4 separate regions of the Homo sapiens genome follow, and regions 1, 2 and 3 are each linked to region 4. The links come from fine-mapping of genetic effects on gene expression. A gene starts in region 4. Each other region holds a variant in brackets. All regions are shown on one strand. Distances are between the middles of the regions.

Region 1 (2,736 bases), 100 kb before region 4:
TCCCAAAGTGCTGGGATGACAGGCGTGAGCCCCAGGCCCAGCTGAGTTTGCCACTTTCTAAATGAGGCTGTGTGCTATGCAGTATTAAGAGTTTCCATCCCTTTGATTTTTCACTGGGAAAATCTAGAAATTGTGAGCTCTGGGGATGAGGTGAACTTGGCATGGAGCTCCGCCAGCCCCTACAGGAGGCACGCAGATGCCAGACTCGGCTTCCCGTGCCTGTGCAGACACAAAGCTGTGGTTCACGGGGAGCTGCTTTTCACGCGTTTGCGCCTTCAAACGTGGAGAGTGTTGTTAGCTCGGATTTATTCATTCTCGAACAAATATCTATTAAACATCCCCCAAGCTGAGGAAACTGAGATTCAAGGAGTTGGGAGACCTCACCCACAGTCACGTGGATCCTAACTGGCTGAGATGAGTTTTGGGCTCCTGCTGGGCTGTTGGGACCCAGAGGTCGGCGACAAGGTCACCCAGGTCTCAGGTCGGTCCCTGTACCTTTATCTCATCCCCCTCCTCTGCATTCCTGAAACCCTTCCCAGGACAGCTCCCCTGCCCACCCCGCCCTTGACCTCACCTTTTCCATGAGGGACTCCACAGCATGGCGGGTCACCCAGCAGCGGCCCCCGGACACCTCTCCCTCCTGGATGATGTCCCCTCTCTGGCTCCAGGCCTCATACTCCTCCTGGCTCAAGTACTCTACAGGTGACATTGGACGGGGCCATCATAGACCAGCTGTGTGGGGGTCTGGGGGAGTCCCATGGTAAACACCCCTGTCCCCGTGAACCCTGCCAGCACTGGGAGAAGCTCTTCTTAGGATGTCCACTTTACAAACCTGACCCTGCACACCCCGCTCTGTGCCCTGCACCTCCATCCTGAACTATCTGGACACAGCAGGTGAGTGTGGGAATGTGCGTGGTGGGGGAGGGAAGGAGGAGGGAGGAAGGGGAGGAAGGAGGGAGGAAGGGGAGGAGGGAGGGAGGGAAGGTGGAAGGGGTAGAGGGATTCCCAGGCAACAGCATACCTGCCAGGCACTTCTTAAACCCTTGGAGGAGGCACAGTTTCTCGCTCAGGATCTTCCCAACCGCCCTGGGCACGAGGAGCACAGGCCGGGGCCGGGCGGGTCGATGGGGCCGCACCAGGGTATAGGGCACCAGGGTGAGGCAGCTCTCGGCCCAGAAGCACGTGCTGGAGCCTGTGGAGGAGAGGATCCTGAGGGTGGGTGAGGCTGCGGCAGCCCC[C/T]AGCCAGCCTACCCTGCCCCGGGAGGGACTGGGTCTGCTTTGCTCACTGCAGCAGCCCCAGCACCTAGAATTCCAGGGGCACAGGCTCAGCGGTCACAGGACTCACTCCCAGTTCCATAGCCCCTGGCTGAGCGGCTCCTTTGCACGGGGGTTACACAGCTCTGTGGCTCTCCAGGGACTGCTTTGCAGCCTGCAACTTAATCCTGTTTCCTATAGGCCCAAGGGAGGATGGCGGAAGCCAGGGTTTTCTTCCTTCCAAAGGATCTGGGAGAGTGGCACCCTTCTCCTCAGCCATCCTCCAGGGCACAGGGTCCTAGCCCTCCCTCTGTCCTGTACTCCTCTCCTGAAATTTTTTTTTTTTCCTGAGACAGAGTTTTGCTCTTATTGCCCAGGCTGGAGTGCAATGGCACCATCTCGGCTCACTGCCACCTCTGCCTCCCGGGTTCAGGCGATTCTCCTGCCTCAGCCTCCCGAGTATCTGGGATTACAGGTGTGCGCCACCACACCCAGCCCCATGATTCTTGAAGACCAGATCCTGGCCTAAATGAGTGGCATCCCCCTGCCCCAGCTGACCAACTAGCAGCAGCTCCCAAAGCCCCTCACCCACTTGGAGCCAGTGGCCCCTGTGCCAGCTCACCAGGCCTCACCCTCCATCCTGCTGGGGTCCAACTGGCCCCTGTCAAAGGACAAACGCAGAGGGCTGGCCTTGGCTTTGTCCATACTGACGATGCGGACCAGCTTCTGTGGTCCCCCAGAAGATGGCTAAAGGAGGGACAGAGAAAGGATGAGGAGGAGCTGTTGAAGCCATCAACAGGAATGGGAATTCAGGGGAGATGATTGGCACTAGGGCGACCTGGGAGTGATGCAGAGGCGCAGATGCTCTGAGAACAGCCTGAGGTGTGTCTGCACTTGTGCAAGAGCCTGCAGGCTGGGCAGGGGCTGCAGACCCTGCCCTGGTTTGAAGGGGTGCAGAGGAGAGACAGGTGGGGTTACCCTCCAATCAGCAGCCCACTCTCCACACAGTGCCTCCTGCCACCCTGCCAGCACCGAGCCCCTCTTCCAGCCCACCCCAGTGGGGTCCAGGCCCCTCCCTGGAGCCTCACCTTGCGGGTCACGGTGCACTGCTGAGTCATGTCCTGGATGAGGGCTATGAGCTGCTGCTGAGCCCTGCAGAGACCAGCAGAGGCCCTGACCCAGCTGCCTCCTGCCAGGTGAGCAGGGCAGGGGAGAGCCGAGCAGGGGAGAGTGGGGGAGATGGCCGGGTGGGAGAGAAGGGCCTCCACCTAGAGCTCCACACATCCCTTTGCTGCAGGCTGGAGCGCTCCATCCTGGCGGCCATGCCAGTCTCCAGAGCTTTCAAAAGACTCCAGGGCCTCGGCCCACCCCTGGAGATGCTGATTTACTTGTCCTGGGGCGGGACCCAGGGGGTGCTGTTGAGCAGCCAGCGTACAGGGCCCCACTCCAGGACCTCAATATTCATGGTGGGTCCCTGGCCTGC
Region 2 (2,736 bases), 27 kb before region 4:
CTTCCCACTTCACTTGGCACTTCTTGCCACCTTGTGAAAAAGGTTCCTGCTTCGTCTTCGCCTTCCACCATGATTGTAAGTTTCCTGAGGTCTCCCCAGCCACACTGAACTGTGAGTCAATTAAACTTCTTTCCTTTTTAAAGCACCCGGGCTCAGGCAGTTCTTTATAGCAATATGAAAATGGACTAATATACTGCTCTGCAGTGTTTAGGAGAATGTGGAGAAACTGGAACCCCCATACATTGCTAGTGGGATTGTAAACAGGCACAGCCTTTATGGAAAACAGCTTGGCAGTTCCTCAAAATGTTGAACATAGGAGTTGACCTAGCAATTCTCCTCCTAGGTCTATACTCAAGAGAATTAAAAAATCTGCACACATAAACCTAATGTGTTCATAGCATTGTTCATAAGAGCCAAAAAGTGGACACAAGCCAGATGTTCATCAGCTGTAAGCAAAACTGGTGAATCCACACAATATTACTTGGCAATAAAAAGGCATGAAGTGCTGACACACTACAACCTGGATGAACCTCGGCAATATGCTAGGTGGAAGAAGGCAGACACAAAAGGCCACACGTGGTGTGATTCCATTTACATGAAACGTCCTGAACAGGTAGATCCATAGAGAGATTAGCAGGAAACCATTCACAGTGGTTTCAGGAGCTTGAGGGGGGAGGAGGGGGATGGGTGAAACAAGGAGTGGCTGAAAATGAGTATAGGGTTTCTTTTGAAGGTGATTCTAATGTTCTGGAATTAGATAATCGTGATGGTTGTACAAGTGTACTAACAACTGAATTGCATACTTTAAAATGGTAAATGTTATGGCATGTGAATTACATCTCAGCACAAATATCATGAGGAATCTCATGCATCCTCTAAAATTACACTTAAAAAGCAAAAAGCACGAGCAAGGGAAAACAAGCAAATTGCCTACTGCAAAATTAAAAGACAGATATTGTTAGGCTGGATTATAAAGCCATACACAACTATATACTATTGCTTATGAGAAATATAAAGACAAAAGTGAAAAGATGGAGAAAAATACACCATGGTAACGCAC[A/C]CATCAAAATAAACCTGAAGCAGCTCTATTAATATTAGACAAAGGAGATCTCAGAGCAAAGAATATTGCAAGGGACAAAGAGAGTCATTTGATAATGATAAAGGGGTAATTCATTAAAAGGATATAACAATACTAAATACCTATGCACCTAATAACAGCTTCAAAATACAGGAAATATAGGAAGGAAAAATGGATAAAACTGCAAGGGGAAATAGACAAATCCACAGTGGCAATTGGGGCTTTCAGTAACCCTCTCAGGAACAAGGCACAGGTGTCCTCTCCCTTCTGTTCAATATTACACTGTGGATTCTGGCCAGTGCAACAAGGCAAGAGAAAGAAAAGGCCTCCAGGGTGGAAAGGAAGAAGGCTTTCTTCACAGATTATATGTTTCTCTATGTAGAAAATCCTAAGGAGTCTACCACAAAGCTACTGGAACTAATAATTGAGTTTCGGGAAGGTAGCATTCTACAAAGTCAATATAGAAGAGTCAGTTGTATTCCTATATGCCAGGAATGAACACTTGGAATGGGAAATTTGGAAAACACCACCATATACAGTACCATCAAATACATGAAATACTTGGGGGTATATTTGACAAAAGATGAGCAAGCTCTGTAATTGAAAGCTACAAAACGTTGCTGTGAGAATTAAAGATGTAAATAAATGAGAGATACACTGAGCAGATTGGAAGAGTCGATATTGTTAAGACATCAGTTCTCCCCAGGTTGATGTACAGACTCAACACAATTCCAACCAAAATATCAGGAAGCCTTTTTTGGGAGAGTGGGGATAGGGCTAAACATTGACAAGCTAGTTCTAGAAGTTATATGAAAATACAAAGGATCTAGCATAGCCAAAACAACTTTGGAAAAGTGCACCAAGCTACTACTCATACCAAGAAATATTATAAAGCTACAGTAGCAAAGGCAGTGTGGTATAGTCATAAATATAGACCTGTTGTAGATCCAGGGAAAACAGTAGAAAGTTCAGAAAGACTACACATTTATGGTCAATGGATTTCCAACAAAGGCACTTAAGCAGTTTTATGGGGAAAGCATAATGATTTTTGGTTGTGTGTGTGTGTGTGTGTGTGTGTGTGTGTGTGTGTGTGTTTTTGAGATAGTCCAGCTCTGTCACCCACACTGGAGTGCAGTGGCCACAGTTATAGCTTACAGCAGCCTCGACCTCCTGAGATCAAGGAATCCTTCCACCTTAGCCTCCTTAGTAGCTGGAACCACAGGCATGTGCTGCTGCATGCATCTAATTTTTTATTTTTTTATTTTTAGTTTTTAAATTTATTTATTTTGAGACAGAGTCTCACTCTGTCACCCAGGCTGGAGTGCAGTGGCACGATCTCAGCTCACTGCAAGCTCCACCTCCCGGGTTCACACCATTCTCCTGCCCCAGCCTCCCGAGTAGCTGGGACTACAGGCAGCCGCCACCACGCCCGGCTAATTTTTTGTATTTTTAGTAGAGACGGGGTTTCACCGTGTTAGCCAGGACGGTCTCGATCTCCTGACCTCGTGATCCACCCGCCTCGGCCTCCCAAAGTGCTGGGATTACAGGCGTGAGCCACCGCGCCCGGCCTAATTTTTTGCTTTTTGTAGAGATGGGGTCTTGCTGTGTTGCCCAGGCTGGTCTCTAACTCCTGCTCAAGAACTCCTCCTGTCCCGGTC
Region 3 (2,615 bases), 20 kb before region 4:
AGATCCAATTAGCCAGGCATGGTGGCGGATGCCTGTAATCCTAGCTCCTCGGGAGGCTGAGGCAGGAGAATCACTTGAACCTGGGAGGCAGAGGTTGCAATAAGCCAAGATTGCACCATTGCACTACAGCCTGGGTGACAAGAGTGAAACTCGGTCTCAAAAAAAAAAAAAAAAAAAAAGTGGTGGGGCTGTTGGGAGGTGATGAGTCCTGAGGGCCCTCCATCCTCATCAGTGGCATTTAGCGCTCAAGGGAGCTTGTCTTCGCCTTCTACCACGATGATGGAGAGTGCGCCATTTATGATACAGACAGCAGCCCTCACCAGACACAGAACCTGCCTCGATCTTGGACTTCCCAGCCTCCAGCCCTGTGAGAAATCCATTTCTGTTGTTTATAAATTACCCAGTCTTGGGTATTTCGTTACAGCAGCCAAGGAAGGGTCAGATCCTACAAGGGGCTAAGGCTACAGTGGCCCTGCCAGGCTGGGCGGTGGCACAGAAGGTGAGGACGCTGATGGTCGGTCCAGGCTGGCCGAGGCTACCACGCTCCATCAACCCTCCCTGAACGTCTTGGGTGTCAACTGCAGACCTGGCGAGCCTGGCAGAGCGTTAGGGCAGGTCGCCCTCAGCACCGAGACCAGGCACGCTGCTGGCCTCAAGACAAACATTCCTGCTTCTTAACCCCACATGGGACTAGGATGAGGGGAGGAAGTAACATATGTTATTGTCACTACTACGTCCACCTTACAGAGGAACTTTAGGGCGCGAGATGACTTAGTGATGTCAATCTGGATGGTAAAAGTGGCACACGGGGGTCAGGCCCTGGCCTGTGACATGGCAGAAGAGCAGTGTCCGCTTCTACAAAAGCTGACCCAGAAGACAATAGTGCTGGTCACCCAGGTAGACACACTGCCCCCCAGGGATGTCATGCTGCTCCACGGGGAAGTCACTGTACTTTCTGCTCCTGGTTTTCAGGAAGGTGGCAAAAGTAATCCATCGCTCTGCAGAGGACTTCGGGGTTGGCCACTTCTTTTGTTTTTTTTTTGAGATGGAGTCTCACTCTGTCGCCCAGGCTGGACTGCAGTGGCGTGATCTCAGCTCACTGCAGCCTCCGCCTCCCAGATTCAAGCAATTCTCCTTCCTCAGCCTCCTGAGTAGCTAAGATTACAGGCGCGTGCCACCACACCCAGCTAATTTTTGTATTTTTAGTAGAGATGGGGTTTTGCCACGTTGGTCAGGCTGGTCTC[G/A]GACTCCTGGCCTCGTGATCCGCCTGCCTTGGCCTACCAAAGTGCTGGAATTGCAGGCATGAGCCACCGCGCCTGGCCTTTTTTTTTTTTTTTTTGAGATGGAGTCTCACTCTGTCGCCCAGGCTGGAGTGCAGTGGCACGATCTTGGCTCACTACAACCTCTGCCTCCCGGGTTCAAGTGATTCTTGTGCCTCAGCCTTCTGAGTAGCTGGGACTACAGGCACACACCACCATGCCTAATTTTTTTTTTTTTTGAGACAGTCTCGCCCTGTCATCAGGCTGGAGTGCAGTGGTGCTATCTCGGCTCACTGCAACCTCCGCCTCCCGGGTTCAAGCGATTCTCCTGCCTCAGCCTTGCGAGACCAAGTAGCTGGGACTACAGGTGTGTGCCACCACACCCAGCTAATTTTTGTATTTTCAGTAGAGACGGGGTTTCACCATGTTAGCCAGGATGGTCTCCATCTCTTGACCTCGTGATCCGCCTGCCTCAGCCTCCCAAAGTGCTGGGATTACAGGCGTGAGCCACTGCGCCTGGCCTTAATTTTGTATTTTTAGTAGAGATGGGGTTTCACCATGTTGGCCAGGCTGCTCTCAAACTCTTGACCTCAAGTGAGCTGCCCGCCTGGACTTCCCAAAGTGCTGGGATTACAGGTGTGAGCCACTGCATTAATTCTAAGTGATAAACTGAAGCGTCTGACTGGCTAAGGGCAGTGATTTCTCCTGCTGTTATTTCAATAAAATGGGCTTCTTTCCCTTTCTCTGGGCTTGCCAGGGAGAACCTGGGCCTGAAATCCTCTCTAACTGCATCACTTGGGGACAGATTTCTGGCCTCTGCCTAAAGTCTTAGGCCCCACTGTTGGAAAGCCCCTTCCTTGCAGGGTCCTGTTGTCTACACAGCCCTGGGGGCCACACTCCCACCACATGCCTAACACCCACTGGACATTCCCCAGTCACCTTAGAGATGGGGGAAGCAGGAGTGTGAGGATGAATGGGGAGAGGAGGAGAGGAGGTGAGGAGGGGAGAGGGGGTGAGGTGGGGTAGGGAGGGGAGGTCAGGTGAGGGGAGGAGGGGAGGGGAGGAGGGGAGGGGAGGTGCGGTGGGAGGGGAGGAGAGATGACATAGGGAGGGGAGGTCAGGTGAGGAGGGGAGGTGAAGTGGGATGGGGACGGGAGGTTGGGAGGGGAGGAGAGGTGACATGGGAAGGGGAGGTCAGGTGAGGAGGGGAGGGGAAGGGAGGTGGGGTGGGAGGGGAGGTGGGGAGGGAAGGGGAGGTGACATGGGGAGGGTAGGTGAGGAGTGGAGGGGAGGGGAGGTGGGGAGGGGAAGGGAGGTGACATGGGAAGGGGAGGGGAGGTGAGGTGGGGTGGGGAG
Region 4 (2,622 bases):
CACACTTCTGACATTAAATGTGTAGGGTTTTTCTCACACCCATCAATTCTGCAACTTTCTGGACACGGCTGGGTGTCCTACAATTCAATTCAATCTTGACACTACCTGGAGTCAGCACAGACTCCACAGGTTAAGGGCTCAGTCCCACAACACTGCCTTCACTTCAGAGGCCAATGGCAAATCCCAGGTTGTCACTTGTACTTTCGATCAACTAGTTATAAATTCAGAGGTTCCCAGGACTCCCTCTTCAGGGTCACAGAACTCAGGAAAGTGCGTTTCTTACAGTTGCTGGTTTATTACAAAGGATAAAACTCAGACAGCCGTATGGAAGAGATGCGTAGGGCCTGGTGTGAGGTGGGGGCAGTGATGCTGTGCTCTCTGCTCGCACCACCCTCCAGTGCCTTGGTGTGTTCCACAACCCGGCGGGAAGCCCTCTGATCCCTGTGGTTTCTTACGGGGTTCCATTGTGCAGGCATGGTTGACTAAGCCACTGGTGATTCACTCAATCTCCAGCCCCTCACCCCTTTTCCATCCCAACCCGTCATCAGGCCTTGGTCTTTCTGGCCATCTGCTTCCATCCTGAAGCCACCTGGTGTCCCCGGTCATCAGTCACCTCATGAGCAAAAGGCTCTCTCATCACTCGGTTTCCAAGGGTTTCGGGTGCTATGTGCCAGCAACCAGGGACAAAGACCAGAGACAGTCACCCCTGGCCTGGCCTAAGGGGGTCTTTGTGATTGAGACATTCAGATTTCAGAGCTGGCCCAGGGGCCCCCTCTCAGGCCACGGTGCTCCTCACCCCAGGGATTCAGACCCAGCCATGTGCGTCCTGCAGGAGCAGGAGAGGTGGCTCGGGTCCCGGCCAGGACTGAGCACTGCGTCGATCAAAAGGGGAAAGGAAACCCTAGAAACGGGAAGATGCAGCCTCCAGCCCCAAGCCCAGCACAGGAGGGCGGCTCCCCGTTCATCTCTAAGCTGAACTCAGATAAAGACCGGGAGGACTAGAGGTCTGGGGCTCAAGCTCCGCTCAGGGGAAGAGGCTGGGGGCACGGCTAGGCACGTTCAAACCCGCTTCTGGGATGTTACCGCCGGCAGCGCGGGGCAGACGTCAGGTGTCTCACCCGCTCCGTGCCTCAGTTTCCCCGTCAGCTGCGGCACGCGCAGAGCCTCCCTCGCTGAACAACGGGCGGACGAGGAGAACCTAGAGGTGGCCGGGGTCCTTCGCGTCACCGAGGTCACTGTCCTACCTGCTGCCTCATCCCCGACCTCCACCCGCGGCCCCGGCGACAACCTCAGCTTTCCCAACTGAGAGGCCGCGCGGGCAGCCGACCGCCCCACCGACCCGGCCCGCGCTCAGGGAAGCCCCGCAGCCCCGGCCCGGCTCACCTCCGCGCACGCGCGCCCTGGCCGCCCGCGGAGACTCCGGGGTCGTGCCCGGGGGCGCGCAGAGGCGGGTCACGTGACCGGCGGGAGCTCGTCGCGGGGCGGGGCCGCGGTGGGTCACGTGACGCGGCCTCCCGCGCAGGCGCCCGAGGCAAGGGTGCGCGTCCGCGCTACGCCCCCCAGTGGCGGCTCCGGCAGAGCGGGCCTGGGCGCGTCCTCGCTCTCGGAGGGGGCCTGGGGAGCGCGTCTGGCTGCGCGTCCGGCGTCCCGCGGGGAGAGGCCCACGCGTGCTGCCCGCTGCCGGTTCCTCTGGGGTCAGAGACGGGGCGAGGCCCCCGCTGGCGCAGTCCCGGCCCGGTCCCCGTGGGGTCGGAGATGGGGCGTGGCCCCCGCTGCCCCGGCCTGGGTCCCCGCAGCTCGTAGGGCTTTGTAAGGGGCTGGCCCAGCCGCGCCTTGCGCCCAGGGATTCCTCCTGCCAACGCGTCCCGAGGGCATCATCGGAAAGGCGGCCAAAGGCGCTCAGCGCCAAGTTAGAAACAGCCAACATTTGGAAAGTCCTTAAGTGTGCTCCATAACTCACAGTTATTCCAGAAAGGAATAATCAAAACATTGTGATAACCCATAAAACTGACAATTGAGAAAACATTAAACTGACACAGGGGGAATTTTTTCATAAAATGAGAAAATGCTTACATTAAGAGGAGCACATTTTTACATGTGAGATACAAAAAACACACAGTATAACCTTAACTTGCCTAATAAAATGTATGTGCAGAAAAATACAAAAGGAGCCACACCAAAACACAGAGGTGTTGTTCCTGGGTAGGGGCATAGGGGCATTAAAAGCCCCCTTTCCAGCTTGCAGCGAGCCGAGACCGCGCCACTGCACTCCAGCCTGGGCGACAGAGCGAGACTCCGTCTCAAAAAAAAAAAAACAAAAGCCTCCCTTCCACCTCTGTTGTGGTTTCTGTATTTCTACAATGTTTTAAAATAAGTAAGGCTGACTCAGAAAGGCTTACTAGATATTCAGAAAAAAGATTTTATTCTTCTGCTGAAATGTTTGAAAGTGAAATTATTTTGTAGAGCATTTTCCCTTTAAACTGCAAAGAAGCCCCAAGGTCATTGGTACTTGGAAGTCCAGGGAGAAAGAGCGCTGGGTTAATGATGGAGAAAAGATAGGTGGGCAGACTGGGGCGTAGTCCCTTGGTGTGGACGCCCCAGCGTGCTCTTATTTCAGTGCTC

The links.
Region 1: its variant is fine-mapped to the expression of GAA in lung (TOPMed, PIP above 0.99). The same link has a PIP of 0.9 or more in blood mononuclear cells.
Region 2: its variant is fine-mapped to the expression of GAA in monocytes (Fairfax 2014, PIP 0.95).
Region 3: its variant is fine-mapped to the expression of GAA in nasal epithelium (TOPMed, PIP above 0.99).

The regions. Positions count from the first base shown.
Region 1 is chr17:80,203,491-80,206,226 of GRCh38, reverse strand. CARD14 (caspase recruitment domain family member 14) reads right to left here. Exons shown (of 24, transcript NM_001366385.1): 19 at 2,342-2,405; 20 at 1,886-2,000; 21 at 1,022-1,192; 22 at 575-696. It also overlaps a transcript of SGSH not described here. Among named protein-coding and RNA genes, the nearest start is that of SGSH, 15 kb to the left of the region's middle. RefSeq lists an enhancer at 442-1,641. The variant C/T (reference allele first, on the strand shown) is at 1,239.
Region 2 is chr17:80,127,080-80,129,815 of GRCh38, reverse strand. No RefSeq gene overlaps it. Among named protein-coding and RNA genes, the nearest start is that of EIF4A3, 19 kb to the left of the region's middle. The variant A/C (reference allele first, on the strand shown) is at 1,061.
Region 3 is chr17:80,120,336-80,122,950 of GRCh38, reverse strand. No RefSeq gene overlaps it. Among named protein-coding and RNA genes, the nearest start is that of GAA, 20 kb to the right of the region's middle. The variant G/A (reference allele first, on the strand shown) is at 1,245.
Region 4 is chr17:80,100,387-80,103,008 of GRCh38, reverse strand. GAA (alpha glucosidase) reads right to left here and starts at 1,428. Exons shown (of 20, transcript NM_000152.5): 1 at 1,119-1,428. It overlaps CCDC40 (coiled-coil domain 40 molecular ruler complex subunit), which reads right to left. Exons shown (of 20, transcript NM_017950.4): 20 at 2,396-2,622. RefSeq lists an enhancer at 822-931 and a silencer at 1,262-1,881.